Regions from separate parts of the Homo sapiens genome. Here region 1 is linked to region 2. Evidence: fine-mapped expression QTL. Tissue or cell type: whole blood. Region 2 holds a variant in brackets; the other region holds the start of a gene. All regions are shown on one strand. Distances are from middle to middle.

Evidence for each region. PIP is the estimated chance that this variant, and not a neighbour inherited with it, causes the effect.
Region 1: it holds the start of MAPK8IP3, and the variant in region 2 is fine-mapped to the expression of MAPK8IP3 in whole blood (INTERVAL, PIP 0.97). The same link has a PIP of 0.9 or more in monocytes.

What each region holds. Positions count from the first base shown.
Region 1 is chr16:1,704,155-1,709,458 of GRCh38, reverse strand. It overlaps MAPK8IP3 (mitogen-activated protein kinase 8 interacting protein 3), which reads right to left and starts at 3,264. Exons shown (of 32, transcript NM_001318852.2): 1 at 2,802-3,264. The coding sequence starts at 3,119. RefSeq lists silencers at 2,721-2,770, 2,791-2,900, 3,171-3,510, 4,417-4,711 and an enhancer at 3,069-3,933.
Region 2 is chr16:1,741,656-1,747,408 of GRCh38, reverse strand. It overlaps MAPK8IP3 (mitogen-activated protein kinase 8 interacting protein 3), which reads right to left. Exons shown (of 32, transcript NM_001318852.2): 5 at 3,933-4,077; 6 at 134-380. Among named protein-coding and RNA genes, the nearest start is that of MIR3177, 9.5 kb to the right of the region's middle. The variant C/T (reference allele first, on the strand shown) is at 2,602.

The sequences.
Region 1 (5,304 bases), 38 kb after region 2:
GCAACCAACAGCCAGTGATGGTGCTTGGATCTTGAGATGAAACTGACTTGCAAAGTCCGCGGCCACTGCAGCCCAGCGAGGGGAAGAGGATGGACCCAGGGTGTGTGGCTCCTGAGGGCCGGGCTGACACTCAGGCTGGGGTCTGCAGACTCCACGGCTTGGGTCAGTCTCTCGGGAGACCCCACCCTCTCTAGCTCCTGTCACTCTCATACACTCAGCTGCCTGTTATCAGAGCACATTGGGAGTCACTGTGGTAATGACCGGCAAGAAGATGGGAACAGGGATGTCTGCTCTGCTCAGGTTTTTATAAAACCCTGCGGATTCTGTCTGCTCAGAAGCTGCAGTGGCTCAGGTTACCCATCTCTGACTAAGCCTTCTTGAGCAGAGTGGCTGGGGACGGAGCTTCTGCTGACAGCTCACCCAGGAGCTCCTCTGCAACAAGACACGCCTGCAGCGTGTGACGTCCCGCTCCCCTCTTATCAGACACACGTCTATGTGATCACAAGTCCCTGCCTAGAAAAGACGCCGACCCACAGGGCACAATGGTCTACAAAGTTGGAAATGAAGGTCTGCTTGATTCAGTAGAGGAGTAGGCATGCCAAATGTTGACAGCATCGAGCCCTCTTCCTTAGTTGTAAAGCCCTGAGGTCTTTCCAAGGGCGCCCCGTTAGCGTTTAATCATAGCCTCCATGCTGGCCAAGCATTGGCTGGCTTCGGGGCTCGGCTCCCGAAGCTCTCGGTGCAGCTTCTCTAAAGCGCTGGGGCAATGGTGGGTCTCAGACTAAAGGTGATAGCTTTGCAAACCACACGCACACCCGCCAGCTTGGTTCAGCAGGAGCCCTGGGGGAGGGCAGATGCACTCACAGCAGCTTGCATGTGAACCGCACAGAGCTGGGCAGCGCCTATCCTGTGCACAGCTCATTTTTAAGCGGCAAGGTTATAATTCCTAGCCTTAACGTTGTCCATCTTGATTTTCTCCTTTCAGTTCCTTCTCGTCCACTATACTGACCACACAGGTACAAGGTGAAAAAAAGAAACCCACCTGAAATCCAGGTCAGGCCACTGAGTGTGGGAGAGCAGTGGAGGGCGGTGCCCAGCACAGGGGGCAGCCACAGCTCCACAGCTGAGCGAGGGCAGCCCTGGCACTCCAGGCTTCTGGGGAGCAGCCCTCCGGTGCCTGCAGCTGCCTGACATGGAAGCAAGTGCCCAGGCCGGTGTCGGGTTCACTCTGCATCCTGGCTGGGCACTTCTGGGGTGGGTGACCTTGGTTCAGCCCCTCCACTTCTCAGGACAAGTTTCCTTCCCAGTAAAATGCCTATAGTCACCCTGAGCTCCAAAATCCATGAACCTTTGCGTTCCCTTAGGTTGAGAGCTTTAACTCAGCTTTGCTGGAACCGGGGCATTCCAATCAATGCATAACCACCTCGCGACAGACACGAAGCCCAAACGCAATAGAAACCACAGGAAAGGAGGAATGATACAACATACTGTTATGATTTTTATAAACACGCTTTAAACCAAACTAGGCCATAAATCACCTTGGTTTCAGAAAAAGCCAAAATACTGACACAATCTTTTATTTTCCTATTAAAGTCAAGAATGTGTTAAGCCGAATTAATTGAAAAGGAATTGAAGCTCATTTCCTAAGACACTTCTATTCATAAGTCAAACAGCATTACCTAACTCCTAGAATGAGAGAATTTCTGGGCTTGGAGATCGCCTAGTGCAATTCACTCCTTTGATGGAAAATCGAACCCCAGGCAGGCGACAGGCCAAGGTCACAGAGGCAAAGCAGGGATGGGAACCAGCCTCCCTGAACCTGTTTCTGACAAAGGGCGAGGTTCTGGGCCCACACACAGGCAGGCCGAGCTCAGTATCTGACGGTGAATGAATGAAGCTAAGTGGTGCTCCCCACAGGGCCCGGCTCTTGTAACTGCTTCACAGACAAGCGATTTCCAGGTTATGGAGACATCCTAGCACAGAATTAAACGCTTCAAACTCAGACTGTTAACTCCTCAGAAGCCAGAGTGGAGTTTCTCAGCCCTGGCTACATCAGCTAACAATCTCGCCAAGCAAGGAACCAAGGGGGCAAAGACATCACCTCCAGAAACTCGAGTGTTCCTTCTGCTGACAGAGGAGCAGCCCGCCTGCGGCCTTGTTCTGTGTTTACATCAACCACCCAATTCACCCGTGTCACAGACCTTCAAAATACGGGATTAGGGACAAGGGAAAGGTCTCCAACATCATCCACAGACGGCTGCAGCCCCCTAAGAACACCAAAAGATTCCTTTTCTAGATGGGTTTAGAATGGCAGCCAACAGAGGTAGCACTTGGGGTCGGGAAACGGTTTTGACTGAACACACGCACGAAAGCAAAGGCAATTGTCATGCAGAGGTGGGTGGGGAGGGGAGAGTGAGGCCTGGCTTTGAAGCTGAGCTCCCCGGGGATGACGCCAGGCACATCGGGTTTGGGGCTGAAGATTCAGGGCTGGGGGCACGGAGGAGGGGGCCAGGGCCCAGGCCTGGGCGGAAAAGGGGGTCCCCGGGAGTCGGGGTGGGGTCCCGGGGCAGGCGGGGGAGTGCTCTAGGGAGGTGTCTCACGGCGGGCAGAGGGGGTGGGGAAGTCCCGGGGCGGGGGATATGGGGTCCAGGCGGGTCTCGGGGCGGGGTCTGGGGGTCCAGGGGTCCCGCGGTCCGGGGTGCCGGAGCGGGGTCTGGGGTCGGGACGGGTGTTGGGTCCGGGGCCCGGGGCTGGCTGGGGGTCCGGGACGGGGATGCGGGCGGGTCCCGCGGCCCACGCACCTCCTCCGCCTGCCTGCGCAGCGCCTTCTCACGCTCGTACTGGGTGAGCAGCTGCTCGTTGTCCTCGCGCAGCAGCTCCAGCTCCACCTCGTGCTCCTGGTTCTCGCTGAGCACCGAGTCTAGGTTCTCCAGCACGTTCACCACCAGCGGCATGAGCTCCTTGACCACCTCCTCGTCGTAGCAGTGGATGAGGCGCTCGAACTCGCGGTAGATGGAGCCCGCCAGGCCCGACACCCGCTCCGACATCACCGAGCCGGAGCAGTAGTCGTCCTGGTACACCACCACGCCGCCGCCCTCGTCCATCTGGATCTCCATCATCGCGGCCACCGCCGCCGCCAGCGCGGCTCGCTATCCGGCCGGCGCGCCCGGCCCTCCCCAGCTGCCTCAGGTTCCGCAGGCCGCAGCCCGTCGCCTCCCGCAGCTGCTGTCGCCTCAGGGCTCCGCCGCCGCCGCTGCCGAGGCTGCGCCCGTCACTCACTCACCGGAAGTCCCGCCCTCCAGCCGGAGGGGGCGGTGCCCGCGCGTCCCGCCGCAGCCGCGCCGCCAGGGGGCGCAGGGGCCGTGACGTCAGAGGAAGCCGGGCTTCGGGCCGGAAGCGCGGGTGAGCCGGGCAGAGGGAGCTCCCGGCCAGGCCGGTGGGATCCGCGGGGCGGCAGTGGTCGCTTCCCCCAGCGCGCTGTAGCTTGATCATGTCCCCGCAACCGTGGGCTTCCGGTGACCTCGATCCCGTCTCCAGGCTCTGCACACTTCGGCGGACTTAGGTGAAGGCTCAGCGCCTGCGCCTCAATCCCGGCCGCCCTGATGAGCCTCCGTTCCCTACAGCACCGCGCCCCGCTCAGTGCCTCCCCTCTCCTGATGCCTTCCCCGCTCAGCTGGCTCCTCCCGGGATTCTGTGAATGCACCCTCAACGCCCATCTCATCCTGAAACCCAGCAGCGTGGCCTCCTTCCTTTCGCCCACTTCTCCCTACTGCACTGACTGCTTCAGATTTTCTTTTTTTTTTTTTTTTTTGAGATGGAGTCTTGCTCTGTCGCCCAGGCTGGAGTGCGGTGGCGCGATCCTGGCTCACTGCAAGCTCCGCCTTCTGGGTTCAAGTGATTCTTCTCCCTCAGCCTCCGGAGTAGCTGGGATTACAGACCAGCTAATTTTGTATTTTTAGTAGAGACGGGGTTTCGCCATGTTGGCCAGGCTGGTCTCAAATTTCTGATCTCAAGTGATCCGCCCGCCTCGACCTCCCAGAGTGCTGGGATGACAGGCGTGAGCCACCGCGCCAGTCCAGATTTTCGGTTACTTTTCAGCTACGTGCAATCTGTTTAACCCATCCACTGGGTTATTAATTGCACCGATTTTTTTTTTTTTGAGACGGTGTTTCGCTCTTGTCGCCCAGGCTGGAGTGTGATGGCGCGATCTCGGCTCACTGCAACCTTCGCCTCCTGGGTCCAAGCGATTCTCCTGCCTCAGCCTCCTGAGTAGCTGGGACTACAGACACGCGCTATTAACGCCCGGCTCATTTTTTTGTATTTTTAGTAGAGACGGGGTTTCACCATGTTGGCCAGGCTGGTCTTGAACTGCTGACCTCAAGTGATCCACCCGCCTCCCTCGGCGTCCCAAAGTGCTGGGATTACAGGCGTGAGCCACTGCACCCTGCCAATGATTCTGTTTTTGTCCTATTTGATTTCTTATATTCTAGCAGTTTTAATAGGCTCTTATACTTCCAACCACATATTTATCTTTAAGCGTTGGGTGTGCCTCATAACTACAGTATCTGCAGCCCTTGCAGGTCTGATTCTGCATGTCATCCTGGTTGACTCTTGGCCCAGGGTCCCCTTTCCCCCATTCTGAGCCAGTGTCCCCAGGACTTTTGTCTCTGGAAGTACTTGAGGCCTGAACTTAAAATGTGTTGCTCCGTAAGATTTGCACTTTATTTTGCTGGGCAGGGGACACCATGAACCCAAGACTTTGAAACTCAATTTGGGAGCCACACATGTATTGTGAATCCTGATGAAACCACATCAGTGACTATTTAATGCTAATAGAAATGGCCACTTACCGTCTTTCACCTACTGCAATGCTCATCAGTTCAGATCCTCTCATCCTAATCTGATTGCACCGAAACAGTAACTCCCGTAGCTGACACCCTACTGATTTTTTTTGTTGTTCAGTTTTTAGAGGCAGGGTCTCACCCTGTTGCTCAGGCTGGAGGCACTGGCATGATCAGGGCTCACTTGAACTCTTAGGCTCAAGTGATCCCACCTCAGCCTCCTAAGTAGTTGGGTCTACAGGTGTAAGCCACCACTGCTTGGCCAATTTTAAAAACATTTTTGTAGAGACAGAGGTCTCACTGTTACTCTGGCTGGTCTTGAACTCCTGGCCTCAAGCGATCCTCCCCCTTGGCCTCCCAAAGTGCTTAGATGACAGGTGTGAGCCACCATGCCAGGCTCTATTGTGTTTTTCACATTTTCCACTTGCAACATAATTTGCCGTATACATGTTCAACCATCCCA
Region 2 (5,753 bases):
CCCAGCCTCCGGGCTGTGAGGAACACGTCTCTGCTGCCTGCACTGCCCGCCTGGTGCATTAGTTTCACATCTACCCAAACCAAGCCCTGCCTCCTGCCCGAGGGAGCCCAGAGTCCCGGAGGTGGGCACCCACCTATACTGACGTTGCGCATCTCCTGGGTGACCTGTACTTCCATGTTGCGGCTGTCGCGCTTCTCCCGGGCACGCTTGCTGTTCTTGGAGCCCACGCCATAGTCCCCCAGGGGCTGCAGGCTCTCGTTGAGGGGTGTGACGGCGGCCGAGGGCACGGAGGATGTGGGCGTGTTGGACTTGGTGCCTGTGGTGCTGGGTGTGGCGGCCGCCGAGGACTGGCCTGACTCGGACATTTCATCCTGTGGACACTAAGGCCAAACACAGGGAGGAGGGAGAGCGAGTCACTGCAGGTCCCTGGCCTGCGGCTCCGCCGTGGCTGCCTGAGGCCCCGCGCACCAATGCTTTGCACTTTGCCTCGCCCGACACCCTGCGGGCCAGAGCTCCTCTGCCGCCCACCGGGCTAACCCTTCCGGGCCTCACCACTCCCGAGTGGCTCTGCTTATCCGGCCACTGACTCCGGCTCCTCGGAAGCAGGGCCACCCTCCTGAAATGGCTTGGAACGGGGCTTTCCACTGGTGCCCTCCCCAGACGATTGCTTGTAATGGGCCAGTGCCTCGCCAGGGACACAGCGGCAGCCCCCTGTAGCTTGTGGCTGTTCAGAAACAAGTCCAGCCCAGGTAGGGCAGAGGGCTCTGACTGGGGACCCAAGAAGGGCTGGCTGTGCCGCCACCGCTGCCCCGTCACCATCACTGTGCTGAAGAGCTCGAGGCTGGGCCCACCCGCGCCTGCCCCACGTTCCTCCCCGGGCTCAGGTCAGGGCCAGGGAGTGACCAGAAGGTGCTGACCCTGTGGCTTGACTGGACCAGAGCTCACCCCTGAACATGAGCAAGCGCAAAGAAACCACAATCCCTGCTCACAGAAAGGGACGCCACCAAGACATTCTGGAGGGTGGGGGCAGCCCGGATTACGAGAAACCGCAACCAGCCGTCTACCTCAGGAAGCTCGCTAGGGAGGAGCGCATTCTATGTGACTAATGCGGAATGCGAAACAAACATTCTTTCCAATGGTCTTTCCTAACAAAGATACTGAACCAGCTGGAGAAAAAGAGCCCCAAACGTTCTCGTCTTAGCTGACCTGATCACCCGCTATGGCAGAGCTTGCCCGTGGCCCCCGGCCCTCCTTGAGGTGTGGGAAAGTGCAAGGCCTCAGAGGCACCCAGGTGGCTCCTGTGCCTGTCCCAGGCAGCCGCTGGGTGGGTTCCCGTGGTCTCTCAGAGGGCGCACCGTGGGGGACTCTAATGCTAAGGATCTCACCCAGGGAGGAGCTGTCGAGGGGGTATCCAGCCCTCTCCACAGCTGACTTATACTGGCCTTTAAGTGACCAGGGCAGACGGGACTTCCAGAAGTCATGGCCAGTGCTGACCTCTGCCTCTGCCCAGCCTCTCTGGTCACCGCCAGACTCAGGGCACGGGGCCTCTCAGTACCGGACACGGCCACTCACTCAGAGGACACATTTCTGCTTCATCTACCAGGCTCCTAAGTTTCTCTAGAAGGAATCTCAAAATGACACACCTTCCTCTATAGTAGCTATTCTCAGTTGGGCTGACTGCCCCGAGGGGATGCTTGCAAAGTCCAGAGACATTTTTGTGGTCACAAATGAAGGGGGTGCTCCTGGCTTTCGTGGGTGGAAGCCAGGGATGCTGCTCCACACCCACCGCGTCCCAGCGGCCCAGGCCATGCATGTCCAGCCCCAAAAGATGAGCAGTGCCGAGGGAGAGCCCTCACACGGGCGCAGCCCGCCTCCCGGAGTGGCTTTGTAGAAATGTCTGAGACGGCCTGTGGCTCTGCAGCTATGCCCAGTTTGAAAGGAAAACCCTTGCTCTTCATGTCACTCCCCACGCTGGAGGAAGCGAGTACCGCTCATGCAAGAAGTCTGTGCTGACGTTCTCAAAGAACCTGTCTACCCAATGTGTCACAGGCACCTGGTGTCTCACCGACTCTGCCACCACCCGGCAGAGAGAAAACAGGGAACCCCATGTGGCCAGGCAGGGTGTAGCTGTGCACATCAGACAAACGCTTCTGGGCCACCTTCCTCCACGCTGGGTCCCCGGCCTGCTCCTGACCCTCATGGTGGCTGCGGGGAATTCTGCAGTCTGATTGCGCCTCCCCTAGCTCTCCGTCACCCTACAGGGCCACCACTTACCCATGGGACACTCCCCCTGGCCACAACTTACCTAAAGGCAAACCTCTCAACCTCCTAAACATCAACGTGTAGCAGTGACCTCCAAATGCACTGAAAGAACCCAAACTCTTAGCGGTCATTCCTCACCATGAGTAGCCACAACTGTTTGGTTAAAACACTGAAAATACAGTACATAAAAACAAAAACAAAACAAAACAAAAAACAACAAAAAAATTAAGAAATTAGAAAAACTTCAAAACCTAGAGCATAAAATAAAAAGAACTTAAATGTAATAATTTAAAATAAAGAAAAATCAAATAAAACACTCCTATGAACGAAAACATAAAA[C/T]GCTACAATTTATGAAGAGAGCGACGATGTCAGACAACGCAGGAGGTGAAAGGAAAGACATCATGAGAAGAAGAGCGGGCCCAGAGCGGGCGCGAGAGGCAGCCCGGAGGCCAGAGAGCGTCAAGCAAGGGCTCCCCCCGGCTGAGGCTGACGTGTCTTCAGATGCCTATGGGCAGGTCCCAGCTCCAGGCCCGGGAAGCGTGAGCCAGAGACAGTGAGAGGAGGTGGGCCCAGGTGGCAGGGCTGGGCCCAGAAGGCCCGGGGAGCCCGCAGCCCCGCCACCCTCTCTCCAGCCCTGAGCACAGGGAGGACAGGAGAGCGTTCCAGATGCCATGAGGGAGCTCGCTCCCAGAGCAGCGCAGCAGCAGGTGGGCTGACGGAGCAGGAGCCTGCAGCAGCCCCCACAGGCACGATGGACACTTAGAGGTGGAAGGACAGTCGGCAAAGCATGCAGCAGGAAGTAAGCTTCTGGAGAAGTCCCAGGCCCCACATCCACCAGCCCAACCCAGCCCACAGGCCCCAAGGGCTCTGCCTCTGTGGACATCCTCTGACGGCCCCTGTGGGAAATCCACCAGACCCGGGGTCACCTCTTCTTCCCAGGAAGGTGGCTGTCCTTACCTGGCACTGAGGCCAGTGAGCTCACAGGCCAAAACTGGCAGCAAGCGACCTGGGGCCCTGAAGGAGTGGCCTGGCTCTGGGCCCCTGTGCTCTGAGGTGCACTCACCGGCTGGCTGTGAGAACCTGCTGGGGCCCCCGCACTCTGGCTGTGAGTACCTGCTGGGGCGAGGCTCTGCTTTCTCAAACTCAGGACCCAGGAGGCGTTACCAGGGACAGGCAGGGAGGGGCCCAGAGAAGAGGAGCTTTCTCCTCACCTTTCTGCCAACGGAGGGCAAACCCCACACTCTAGACACTGACGTTCCTCCGAGAGTAGAGGCGTGGCTCTCAGGGGCAGGATGTGTCTGGCTGGAGCCCGGGTGAGCATGAGGCTTTATGTGGGGGTGTGGTTTGAGAGAGGATCACTAAGCTCAACCCTGACAGGCACTGTACACCCCTGGCTACAGAGCGGTCTATCCAAGGGCAGGGAGGTCTAGCCTGGACTAGCAGGTGCCGACACGAGGCCGCGTGGAACAGCCACAGCCACACAGGGCCTGCTGGGCAGCCTGAGCCCCTGACACCCTGGCTGGGTTTCTCCATCCTGCCACACACGAAGGGAGAGGGCGAGTGGCCCAGAGAGCCGTGAAGGGCTGCCTGCAGACGAGGCTCCCGCCCCAGTGAACGGGGAACACCAGCAACAGGGAGGAGCCTCTCACTCCACGGCACGGCTACAAAACCTGGTAGCTGGAGCTGGACTGCAGCTGGCCGAGGTCACTCAGGTGCCAGTGGTCCCCCGCAGGCACGAGCTTGCCCCCGATCTGTGCACGTACCGTGCCGTCAGCCAGGGGGAACACGTTCAGGGAGGTGGGGCGCTCCTTCCTGCTGAAATGGGGGGCGAGAGGAGAGGAAGCGATGGTTAGAGGGTGGCCGTGAAGATTTCCCAAGCCCTCCCAGGGCAAGCAGACCTCGAGTGATGGGGCCGCTCCATGCCAGCCAGCAGCCCAGCTCGAGCAGCTACTCAGTTATGATCCTACGTGGCGCTTCCCCTCCCATGATGCTGCAGTTTCTCATTTTTATTAAGTTCAATTTTATTTTATTTTATTTTATTTTATTTTTTTTGAGGCGGAGTCTCGCTCTGTCACCCAGGCTGGAGTGCAGTGGCACGAACTTGGCTCACTGCAAGTTCCACCTCCCAGGTTCACGCCATTCTCCTGCCTCAGCCTCCCACGCCTGGCTAATTTTTTTTTGTATTTTTAGTAGAGACGGGGTTTCACCGTGTTAGCCAGGATGGTCTCGATCTCCTGACCTGATGATCCGCCTGCCTCGGCCTCCCACAGTGCTGGGATTACAGGCGTGAGCCACCGCGCCCGGCCTAAGTTCAATTTTAAACAGACACAAGCCGGGTGTGCTTTAGACACCCCACAGCAGAGCCAGCCACGGGACTTGGCATCACGGTCAGCGCTGCACGGCCACCATGAGCAATGCCTTTTAGGACCATTGTCTTATGTGTGCCCAGCCCTGCCTCCCTGTGGTGTTACTGCCAGCCCTGCCTGTTCCCCTGGCGCCAGCAGAGGGAATCCAGCCTTCCTGCCCCTGTGCCTTGTTCCTTGGCCCCTCCTGCCCATCCTCATTACTCCTGTTCATGAGGCTGCCTCACTGCAAAATATCTGAACACGACACATCCAGAGTAAGGACTGACCCCGTCTCATCTGCTGCAGCCGGAGCCTGAGCCTGAGGGGCGTCTTCTCCCTCCCCACGTGTCCTCTCTGCTGTCAGGGAGCCCCGAACCTGAAGACGGACCCTGGGACAGCCTGGCCTCGGACAGCCTGGCAAGACAGTGGGAGCGCCTGGGAGCTGGAGCTGTCAGGACAGTGCTCAGTGCCCCCTGCTGTGGGCTCAGTCCCTAGGGATGACCTCCTGTGGGCCATAAGCAAGAGCAGGGATGGAGCCCAAGGTCTCCCTTTACGTCCTCCTCCGCGGGAGGTTTCCAGTCAACAGCCCAGAGGTCCCAGAGGCCAGGCTGGCTCCTCACCTCCTCAGGTCTGGGGGGCAGGCCACGTGGTCAGATGCTGGAGCCCACACTGCTCAGGGCTATTCAGGACAAGAATTAAGAGTCTGCTTGCACCACAGCCTCAGCTGCTTACATCTCAGCCCTGAGACTGTAGGAGGGAAGGGAGCTTCCTCAGGGGTTCAAGGAACCTGCTCTGGCCATGCCTGGAGGATGCAGACGGCGACAGGGGAACGCAGCAGCCGCCGCTGACCAGGAGCTCCGCTACCTGGGTGGGGAGCTATGAAGAATGACCCTGGGAAGGGGTCTCTTTGTGGGGTGCATACAGCTCTGGGGACTGGCCGCCTGCTCTGTTATGTTCAGGACAACACCGTATCCTGTAGCACGAGGGAACCAGGGCCGGCTGGGACTGGGCTGTGCCATCTTGGCTGCTGGTCCATGGCACTCAAGCTGTTGTGACAACAGCCATGAGGTTCCCTGGCCACCGTGAAGGCAGCCAGCCACCAGGCCCAGGGAGCATGACCCCAGTGGGAGGCTGGGCTTCAACCGC